Homo sapiens: one gene and its partners. The protein of the gene in region 2 purifies or fractionates together with the protein of the main gene of each other region. This does not show direct contact. Each region holds a gene or a part of one and is shown on either strand. Other genes may lie near its edges. The genes, in order: DBT, FAHD2B and LGALS9.

The links.
Region 1: the proteins of FAHD2B (region 2) and DBT purify together in Homo sapiens (affinity purification with mass spectrometry; one large-scale study listed by BioGRID and IntAct). This does not show direct contact.
Region 3: the proteins of FAHD2B (region 2) and LGALS9 purify together in Homo sapiens (co-immunoprecipitation; one large-scale study listed by IntAct). This does not show direct contact.

Annotation. Positions count from the first base shown.
Region 1 is NC_000001.11:100,208,268-100,211,918, forward strand, and holds part of DBT (lipoamide acyltransferase component of branched-chain alpha-keto acid dehydrogenase complex, mitochondrial isoform 1 precursor), read right to left. Parts: intron 2,858-3,651; exon of another isoform or gene 2,773-2,857; intron 2,505-2,772; coding exon 2,427-2,504; exon of another isoform or gene 2,426-2,426; intron 1-2,425. UniProt on the Homo sapiens protein: The branched-chain alpha-keto dehydrogenase complex catalyzes the overall conversion of alpha-keto acids to acyl-CoA and CO(2).
Region 2 is NC_000002.12:97,092,634-97,096,384, reverse strand, and holds the start of FAHD2B (oxaloacetate tautomerase FAHD2B, mitochondrial), read left to right. Parts: upstream 1-1,502; 5' UTR 1,503-1,684; exon of another isoform or gene 1,685-1,803; intron 1,804-3,751. UniProt on the Homo sapiens protein: Tautomerase that converts enol-oxaloacetate, a strong inhibitor of succinate dehydrogenase, to the physiological keto form of oxaloacetate. It is thereby required to maximize aerobic respiration efficiency by preventing succinate dehydrogenase inhibition.
Region 3 is NC_000017.11:27,634,066-27,637,716, forward strand, and holds part of LGALS9 (galectin-9), read left to right. Parts: intron 1-3,651. UniProt on the Homo sapiens protein: Binds galactosides. Has high affinity for the Forssman pentasaccharide. Ligand for HAVCR2/TIM3. Binding to HAVCR2 induces T-helper type 1 lymphocyte (Th1) death.

The DNA of each region.
Region 1 (3,651 bases), on a different chromosome or scaffold from region 2:
GAGTCCTGTCCTCAAGATATCTCCTTTGTATATGCAAATATTCCATAATCCAAAAAAATCTTAAATCCAAAAACGCTTCTGGTCCCAAGCATTTCAGGTAACGGATACTTAAACTGTAGAGACTTTCTGGAGAACATATGACAACATGAACCAACATTTATAAAAATTCGTGTTAAGGAACTAAGTGCAGAAGTATGTAGGGATACACAGGGATGTTGAGTACACACTGTTTATAAGTTTGAGAAACTGCAAATAATCATGATGTTTATAAATAGGTCACTGGCTAAATAAATAACAAAGCTATACTTGTTGACAATGATGTCTACAATATAGTAAATGAAAATGAAGAGGCTGGGCACAGTGGCTCATGCCTGTAACCCAGCACTTTGGGAGGCTGAGGTGGGTGGATCACTTGAGCCCAGGAGTTAGAGACCAGCCTGGGCAACATGGCAAGACCCCATTTCTACAAAAAAAAAAAAAAAGTACAAAAATTAGCTGGGCATGGTGGCACGTGCCTATAGTCCCAGCTACTCAGAAGGCTGCGGTGGGAGGTGGACACTGCAGTGAGGCGATGATTACACCACAGCATAGATATTCTCTATGGGGAATACTTTAGATAGGCAACAGAGCAAGACTCTGTATCAAAAAAAAAAAAAAAAGAAAAAGAAAAAAGCAAGTTAAAGAAAATATAAATAATTCTATATCTTGTAAAAAGTATGTAAAAATGAAATCCTAGAAAGATGTATATCTCAACATAAACAGTGAGCTATCTTAGGGTCATGGAATTGAGGGTAAACATCTTTGTTTTCTTTTTTCTTTTCTTTTCTTTTCTTTTTTTTTTTTTGACAAAGGCAGGGTTTCACTTTGTCACCTAGGCTGGAGTGCAGTGGCATGATCACAACTCACTGCAACCTCCATCTCCCAGGTATCATATGATTCTCCTGCCTCAGCCTCCCAAGCAGCTAAAACTATAGGCATGCACCACCATGCCTGGCTAATTTTTTTTTTCTGTAGAGATGGGGCCTCCTAACTTTGTTGCCCATGCTGGTCTTGAATTCCTAGGCTCAAGCCATCCTCCTACCTCTGTCCCCCAAAGTGCTGGGATTACAGGCAGGAGCCACCACACCCGGCCAACATCATTTTCTTGCCTGAAATTTTTTTAATAAGTATATACTTAATCAGGAGATATTAAAATTAAAATTAATACAGCTGACTGTATTAACCGTATGGGAGCTGACCTCCCAGAATATCTAAGCTCACTTTCTGGTTGTACATGTCTTTTCTTTTTTTTCTTTTTTTAATTCTCTTTTTGAAATGGAGTTTTGCTCTTGTCGCCCACGCTGGAGTGCAGTGGCACAATCTTGGCTCACTGCAACCTCCGCCTCCTGGGTTCAAGCAATTCTCCCACCTCAGCCTCCTGAGTAGTTGGGACTATAGGCGCTGGCCACCACGGCTGGCTAATTTTTGTATTTTTAGTAGAGACAGGGTTTCACCATGTTGGCCAGGCTGGTCTCAAACTCCTGACCTCACATGATCCACCCGCCTCAGCCTCCCAAAGTGCTGGGATTATAGGCGTGAGCCACCGTGCCCAGCCTCTGGTTGTGCACTTCTAATGATAAGTAAACTTCAGGAAAGGCATCTCAAAAAGAGTTTTCGGTCTTAAGAAACTTTCACTACTCACAGAAGAGTTTACTCAAATTGAATTCAAACTTTTATTATTTTTCTCACTTAAATTATTCTTAATATTAAAATTCCAGGAATTTGCCAGGCACAGTGGTTCATGCCTGTAATCCCAGCACTTTGGGAGGCTGAGGCAGGAGGATTGCTTAGACCAGAAGTTCAAGACCAGCCTGGGCAACATAATGAGACCACGTCTCTACAAAAAATTTAAAAATTAGTTGGGCATAGTGGCGCATGCCTATAGTCCCAGCTACACAGGAGGCTGGGGCAGAAGGATTGCTTGGGCCTGAGAGGTTGAGGCTGCAGTGAGCCACAATCACAACACTGCATTCCAAACTGGTGACAGAGTGAGACTCTGCCAATAATAATAATAATAATAAGAAGAAGAAGAAGAAGAAGAATAAGAATAATAATATTAAAATTCCAGGAATTCAATTTTGAAAGAGCTGCTTCTTTTTGAGAGGGTAAGTAGAGTGGGTAACATAATCTGCCATACAGCTATGTATTTCCATTATTTTAAGCAGGAAAAAAAAAAGCTTAAAAATAGTTTTAAGAATCTCTAAACAGTATTATTAACACAAAAACAACAACAATGAATTAGACTTAAGTTTAATGTTTTACCCCATACCTTTAATTCTAGTCTAAAAAAGATCACTATTTGAGGTACAATAGAAGTCTCTAATCTACAAGCACATTTGCCCCATCTTCTATTAATAATAAGAACATTTTTACTCTGCATAGCCAACCTTATATGTTATATTCTGGCAGTTTTCATCCACAGAAGCGTTAAGGATAGGAAACTGTAGTAATCCCAAGGAAGCAGCCTGTTTAACAGAAAAAGAATGCAATTTTAGTACTTTTAACTTAGAAAGGATAGAGAATTTGAAACAATAAGAGGTATAAAAGGAGGGAGAGAGAGAACTCTTATTTATGCTGAGTTTAATTTCAAGTCTACATGTACCTAGTCACATTACTGCCAATGTTACCTTCAGGCCATGTGGAACTAGGTCACCCTAATCATTAAAGAATAAAAGATAAAGTAGTCAGGTAGCTTGTAAACATCAAGGAGATTTTCAAAATAATGATACAGACCAGCCAAAGTTCCAAAGAAAATGTCTAAATTCTAGGTGATTTCCTCACTGACATGTTGATCTTAAGATTTCCATGAGAAGTAATACTAGGAATCAAAACACAAAAAAAGCAGGTAAGCTATTTCTCTGTGTGGAAAGAACACGTAACGAGGATTTCAAAGCGCACTGACCAGTAGATGCCAGTTTGCTACTTGGTGTCCTTGGCCAGCTGAAGGGCAGAGATGTCCTGAACATTTACTTTACAGCTCAAGTCTCACTGAATAGCATTTATATTTTCCCTCTCTGCTGCCTTCTCCCTTTTGTCACTTAATACCATTTCTCTCCTGTCCATATTCAGATTTCCCTAACTGTACCCAAAATGTTCTTGATAATCTGTTTTTGGGATCTAATAATCAAGTTTCATACCTTACATGTGGTGGCCATGCATTGTATTGAATTTAAAAGATAGCAAAATAAAAATGCTTAAGATCATTCTTAAAAAGAATTCCCTCCCCCACTGCCCTTGTCTGGTCCCTGTTAAAGTTCTTTACATGCATTGTGTTATTCTTCTCAGTGCATCGGGGTCTTGATGGGAAAAAAATCAAATTCTTGAACTAGAGAGTTAAGAAAAAAGTTTAAATATATAGAGACATTTCATTTTCATTAGTTAGGACAGGTTAAGAGAGTAGATCAACTGAAGAAAAATATAATTAAAAGAACTGCTACGAGTTCCTTAATTTTTATGACTTGGAAGTTTTTCTTGTTTGTTTTTGAGACAGGGTCTTTCTTTGTCACCTAGGCTGCAGTGCAGTGGCATGATCTCAGCTCACTGTAGCCTCAACGTCCTTGGCTCGAGTGACCCTCCTGCCTCAGCCTCCCGAGTAGCTGGAACTATAGGCGT
Region 2 (3,751 bases):
CTCAGCACATCCCCCTGATCACAGCCACCCCCATAGGCTCCATTTCTTTTTTTTTTTTTTTTTTTTTTTGAGACAGAGTCTCGCTCTGTTCCCCAGTGGTGTGATCTGGGCTCACTGCAAGCTCTGCCTCCCGGGTTCAGGCCATTCTCCTGCCTCAGCCTCCCGAATAGCTGGGACTACAGGCGCCCGCCAACACGCCCGGCTAATTTTTTGTATATTTAGTGGAGACGGCGTTTCATAATGTTGGCCGGGATGGTCTCGATCTCCTGATCTGATTCGCCCACCTTGGCCTCCCAAAGTGCTGGGATTACAGGTGTGAGCCACCGCACCCGGCCATAGGTTCCATTTCTATATCAGTGGTGACTTTCTGCAAGCTAGGCTGAAGTCCCAAGCTCCAGACCCACGTCTCCAACTGCCCACCGTTCAATGCCCTTTGGATGTCCCATGCAAATTGGAGCTCACTATCATCTCCCCAGACCCGCTGCTCCTCCAGAAGCCCTGTCTCCATGAACGGCCCTGCACCTACCGGGCTAGAGACCCAGGAGCCGGCCTTGTACCTGCTTCCTTCTCACTTCCACCTCCTGTCATCCAGAGCTGTCAGTTCTTCTTCCTGAACATCTCTGGACACTCACCTTCTCCGCCAAGCACCGCACCACCATTGTTCTCACCCGCACCACCCACCCAGATACCTTTCCTTAGACGGGTGGCCAGAGAAAAACTTCTCAAATAGAAGTCGGGCCATGGCACGCCACTGAGGACCTTCCAGCGGTCTCCTGTGCACTTAAACGAGGTCCAGACTCCTTTGTGGGACAAGTAAAGCTCTTGATGATCTGGTCCTTGAGTAATGTGGGGGCCTCTTGCCCAGAGCCCCTCACACTCTTCAAAGCCGGCAGCTGAAGAGCTGAGCAGTAGCTGTCTGTGGAGTTCAGCCACCGCTCCCCGCACGCCTGCCCTCTGCAGGGGATGGAGCACCGTTTCCCCACTTCCCCACCTGCGCCCAGCAGTGCAGGTGAAGGCCTGGCTGCGGAGAGTGGCTGGGAAACGCTGAGCTTTGGGGTCAGGAATGCCAGCTCCACTACTCACCGCCTGTGTCACCCTGGGAAAACAGCTCTGGCCCCAGGTTCTCCATAAGTAAAACAGGGTCACTCATCCCTCCCCTCCTTAACGACATATGTCAGAATCAGAAGCCACAAATCATTCTCTCCCACCCAGCACGCTGCCTTGGTCTCCTAGACCACTTTCCCCAACAATGGGAAAGGCGCCAGGCCCAGAACAAGGCCGAGACCGGATGAGGCCAGCGAAGCGCCCAGGGACAAACTTTCAGGCAGCGCCCACTCTCGGTCTCGGGCAATTGCAGGGTCCCTCCGAGAGCGACCGTCTCCAGAAAACGCGGCCGCCGCCTGCCTATGCCCTGAGCCTGAAGAGCCCCCGGCGCCGCCCGCCCCGCACTGGGCCCGCCCTCCGGGATTGGTGCCCTGCTAGGGGTGGTTGCCTGTGACGTCACAGGACGCGCCCGCTTCTCGCTGGAGTGCGCACCGAGCGGCAGTGACTTCGCCGCTGCTGTAGTTCCCCGGCTGGATGCGGTGACTGGTGCCAGTGCTCAGGCGCCCGCTGCCCTTGACCTCCCGCCCCGCGAGCCCTAACTCAGCGCAGGAGGACCGGCTGCCGCCGCCGCCGCCGCCAGGTAGACCAGGCCTGGCTGGGTTAGGCCAGAAGGGTGTCCCTGGCGCAGGTCTCCCGCGGAGGGCAGAACTAGAACCAGGTTCCCGGCCGTTTCCGACCACACGGATGGGGCGGACCCATGTGAGCCCTCACTAATTGCAGGGGACGAAGCTGGGCATATGGGGAAACTGGGGGTTTCCAGGCGAGTGGACGGTGGGATGGGATCCGACGTGCACACCCACGTTTCAGGCTACTGTTTCCACCTCACGTCGCCGCCCCTTTGCTTATGGACTCTTGCAGAGTTGGATTGAGCTCGGACTGTGTGACATAGTGGTTGTTGCAGAAGCCCCAGGGCCACTTTCTGACTAGTACCTTGGGCACCTGACGTCATCCCTTTGAGTCTCAGTGTCCTCTTCTGTAAAGTGAGGGCGCTTTACCTGAGGGGATTGCTGTAAGGTTGGAATGAACCTGCATGTGTGTGTCATGTGGGAAGGGAACAGTCAATGGGGCCTGGAGTTCTCTTGGAGAGCTGGTAACCAGCCTCGTCCCTGAGGCAATAGCCAGAGAGCGCCTGTAGTTTCCCCACGCATGGCTGTTTGCAGGGCCTCTGGAGGATCTCCTGTGGGAGGTCCCTACTTCTCACTACAATCTTTAGGGCCTTTGGAGGATTTCCTATGGAAGGTCCCCACTTCTCACCACAACATTCTGGGTTAAAATGTCCTTGGTAGGAAGATGGGGCTGAAGCTAGATTTTCTTGCTTGCATTACAGGCTTCTGAACCAAGGACTTCAATGTCACCTGGACTTGGATTCACATCCCAGCTCCCTCCCCTCCTAGCTTTAAGACTGTGTAACCTTGGGCAAATCCCTTAACCGCTTTAAGCCTTAACTGTTTCATCTGTAAAATGGGACTAACAGTACCTACCTTCCACAAGCGTCAAGAATTAAATCAGGCCGGGCGCCGTGGCTCACTCCTGTAATACCAACAATTTGGGAGGCCGAGGTGGGCGGATCACAAGGTCAGGAGATCGAGACCATCCTGGCTAACTCAGTGAAACACCGTCTCTACTAAAAATACAAAAATTAGCCGGGCGTGGCGGCATGCGCCTGTAGTCCCAGCTGCTGGGGAGGCTGAGGCAGGAGAATGGCATGAACCCGGGAGGCAGAGCTTGCAGTGAGCCAAGATTGCGCCACTGCACTCCAGCCTGGGCGACAGAGCGAGACTCCATCTCAAAAAAAAAAAAAAAAAAAAAGAATTAAATCAGACATTGTAGGTAGAGCACTTAATAGTTGGCATTCAGCGGCAGCAGTTACTGTTATGTTAGCATGTGGAGTGTCTGAGTGTGTGCACTTTGGCTCGAACAGCCTTTTGACAGTGGCACAGTTGGTGCTTGTGTAAGATAGCAGGGCAGAGAAGTCAAAACTCTGTTTTCTAGTCAAACTGGCGGGCCACAACAGTGGTGACCTAAGTCTAATGAGTCTTTAACTGAACAAGGCAGATTGAATCTCCAAGTGAGGACCAAGAGTCTGGGGCTCAGCTGCCTCAACATTTTTGGGCATAGAAGGCTGTACAATACAAACTGCCTTTGTTGGAAGAGCAAGGAACCATTCAGGGAAGGCACCATGTGGTAAGGAATAGTGGCCAGACTTGGATTCAGAACAAAACAAGAGAATAGTGTTTGTCTTTAAGTGGAGCCTTGGACTCAAAACAGGACCTGAGCTCTGTGGATAATTTCTTTTTTTTTTTTTTTTTTTTTTTGGAGTCGCTCTGTTGCCTGGGCTGGAGGGATGTGGCATGTTCTTGGCTCACTACAACCTCTGCCTCCTGTGTTCAAGTGATTCTCTTGTCTCAGCTTCCCTAGTAGCTGGGATTACAGGTGCCCGCCACCAGTCCTGGCTAATTTTTTTGCATTTTTAGGGGATACAGGGTTTCACCATGTTGGCCAGGCTGGTCTTGAACTCCTGACCTCAAGTGATCCACCCACCTCGACCTCCCAAAGTGCTAGGGATTTCAGGTGTGAGCCACTGCGTCTGGCCCTTGTGGATACTTTCTAGGTGATTTGAGGAGGAAAGGCACAGCCATGTCTCCTG
Region 3 (3,651 bases), on a different chromosome or scaffold from region 2:
CTTGGCTGGCCAATCTTAAAACAACAAATTTGCTCTCTTAATGATTTTGAAGGTCAGATGTTAAAATCAATGTGTCAGCAAAGTTGTTTCCTTCTGGAGGCCCCAGGGGAAAATCTGTTTCTTTTCCTTTTCCATCTTCTAGAGGCTGCCTGCAGGCCTTGGCTTATGACCCCTCCTGCCATCTTTAAAACCAGCAGCTTTGGCTGGGCCCAGTGGCTCATGCCTATAATCCCAGCACTTTGAGAAGCCGAGGCAGGAGGATCTCCTTAATCCAGGAGTTTGAGACCAGCCTGGGCCACAAAGTGAGACCACGTCTCTACAAAAAATAGACAAACATTAGCCAGGTGTGGTGGTGCATGCCTGTAGTCCTAGCTACCTGGGAGGCGGAGGTGGGAGGGTCACGTGAGCCTGAGGAAGTGGAGGCTACAGTGAGCTGAGATCGCGTCAACACACTCCAGCCTGGCTGACAGAATGAGATCCTGTCTCAAAAAAAACAAAAAACAAAAAACGAAAACAAACAAAAACCCCCCAAAAACGCAAACCAGCTTCTTCTTGCTTCTGTGCTTCTGTTGTCACATCTCCTACCTCTGACACTGATCCTCCTGCCTTCCTTTTATAGGATCCTTGTGATCACATTGGGACCACCTTTAAAATCAGGACAATCTCCCCATGCCAAAATTACTAATTTAATCACATCTACAAAGTCCCTTCTACAACATATTCACAGTTTCCGGGGATTCGAATGTGGATGTTTCTGGGGGGTGGCCCACTGGTAACCAGTGTTATAAGTTTCTTATAAATCCTTCCAGATATATTTTATCTATAAATAAATAAATGCAAGTCCATAGACTTCCCCCACCCACTTTTTATACAAATGGCATCATTCCATATCAGTGCTCAGAGTTCTGTCTTCCTCTTTTTCTTTTCTTTTTAAGGCTACACAGAACCTATTAAATGGAAATACCCTAATTTATTTCACCTTTTTCCTGTCAGAGGACTTTTAAGCTCTTTCCAATGCTTTGCTTTATAATCCTTTGTGTTATAATGCTGCAATGAATAACCTTGTTTGTAGGATGATATTCAATTTAAAAACTCATTTTTCAGGCCAGGCATGATGGTTCATGCCTGAAATCTTGGCCCTTTGGGAGGCCGAGCCGGAAGGATCACTTGAGCTAGCCCAGGCAACACATAGAGACCCCATCTTTACAAAAAATATTGTAAGATTAGTGGGACATGGTGGCCTGCACCTATTTTGTCCCAGCTATTCGGGAGGTTGAGGCGGGAGGATTACTTGAGCCAGGGGGTGGAGGCTGCAGTGAACCATGATCACAGCCCTCACTGAACTCCAGCCTGGGCAACAGAGTGAGAACCCATCTCTAAATAAATAAATAAATAAATAAATAAATAAATAAATAAATAAATAATCTTGTTTTTCCGAATTTTGGGGGCACTATTTAAGATATTTTGAAACCTCACAGAGCTTTTTTGGGGAACTTGTTGCCTTGGAGATTAGCCTGTCCTGTCCCGCCCCCATGATCTGTACTTCCTCTTTCTCCCTCCTGGCTTCCTTAATTAAGCCTTGTGTGTACTTGCCAGCCCATGTCCATCACGCTCTGCCTTCAATTCTAGATGCTGTGCTGTGAATACACTTAAGTGGAGGCCGCATGCTTCCCAGGAGGGTGTGTATTTTCAGTGTTGTGTCTCATGATAGTATGAAAGGCTCTGGAGAGAATCACAGGCTTCCACAAACAGGCAAGGAGAAAAATGTTCCACAGACATGTTTCAGGGAAAACAGGCTTCCCAATCCTAGGCCGTGCTGGTCCATAATTGGATCAGGCTGACTCTCCTTCCCCTACACTGCTGGTGTAGACAGGGACAAGAATGAGAAGTCAGAGACACAGAGAAGCTGTGATTTGCTTGAGGTCACTAAAGTACTTAATGGCAGAGTTCAGACCTGACCTGAGGGGCAACAAAAGACACCCCCCTCAAATCCATGGGGAGCAGAGTCTAACTGAATCAGATCCCAGATTTCCTGGGGCTCTCACGGTGCCAGGTGTGTACACTGAGCTAGGATGGGTTTCCCAGGGTTCTGTGTGGTCACACAACTCAACAATACAGACCAGAAAGCAGTGGCAAGTAGGCTGAATTTGGCTGGTGGGTGTTTTCTGTTTGGCCTGCACAGTGTTTCTTTTAACGTTTTATTATAGGAAATTCAAACATGCAGAAGGAATTGTACCATCAACAACACACACCCATCACTCTGCTCCAACAATGATCAACTCAGGCCTATCTTGCTTCATCCTATACCCTCCCTCGCTTGCTTCCTTCCCACCCTCAGATATGTGGAAGCAAATCCAAAGATACCATTCCATTTCAAATATTTCATTTTGTATCTCTATAATATGGGAATTTGGGGGGTTTCAAGACAGGATTTCACTTTGTTGCCCAGGCTGGAGTACAGTGGTGTGATCATGGCTCACTGCAGCCTCCACCTCCCAGGCTCAAGGGATCCTCCCACCTCAGCCTCCCAAGTAACTAGAGTTAAAGGTGTGCACCACCACACCTAGCTATTTTTTTTTTATTTTTTGTAGAGATGGGGGTCCCATTACGTTGTTCAGGCTGGCCTCAAACTCCTGGGCTCAAGTGATCCTTCTGCCTCAGCCTCCCAAAGTGCTGGGATTATAGATGTGAGCCACTGTGCCCAGCCAGGAGCTTTTACATAATCCTTTTTGACAAATTTTCCCCCAAGAAATTAGAAAGTTTTATAGAAAAAAAAAATCCGGACTTCTGTCTTCTCTTAAAAATTTGGAAGCTCTGCCAATACTGGGCCCAGATGGCAATCACTGCTTAGCACGGAGTAGATGTTGACTTTTCAGATGAGGGGTGTGACATCTACTTTGCCACAGTCCCCACCACTCCCCCACCTGGCCATCTCACCCATACACATCACCTGCCTGGCTCCTTTAGGCATTTAATTTGTGTAGGAAATTGACCTAAAGGAGATATTAGAGAAGACATTAAAAACTTGAAGAATGTGAAAATCAGCCAGGAGATAGAACTGTGCTTTAATGCGGGTTATAGAACGACATTGGATATGAAGCATTTTGGGAATAAACTTTGAAAATTGGAAGTACCAGTTTGTGAATTTTGCTGAGAGAGATGAAGGTGGGGGGTGGGTGACAGTGGTGAAGCATCTCCTATGTGCCAGTCTCTTTTACCACAGGCTGTTTCTCACAAAATCATCAATCATATGCAGCAGGTGAAACACCTTCCTATTTTACAGATGAGGAAACTGAGGCACAGAGAGGTGAAATAGGCTTCCCAAGGTCACTCAGGTCATGAGCAGCAGAGCTAGGATTCAGACCTGGAGTTGGCCTGACTCTAAAACGATGCATGCCTCACCATGGCCCATCACTCCTTTAAAGAGCACCAGAAGAGAGAATTTGACAAAGTGGTTGCCCGTGGGGCCTGGGATGGGTGGGGAAACCACGCTAGGCCTCGGGGCTGCTGAGGGCCTGAGGGAAGGAATGGGGAGCCCGGGCACAGAAATAGAGGAGGGGGCTGCCCCACGGCTACAGAAGGCATCTGGGAAGACGCTCTGCTGAAGGTGGCCAGGAGGGCAAAGGTCACAGTGGCCATTGTTATATGGTG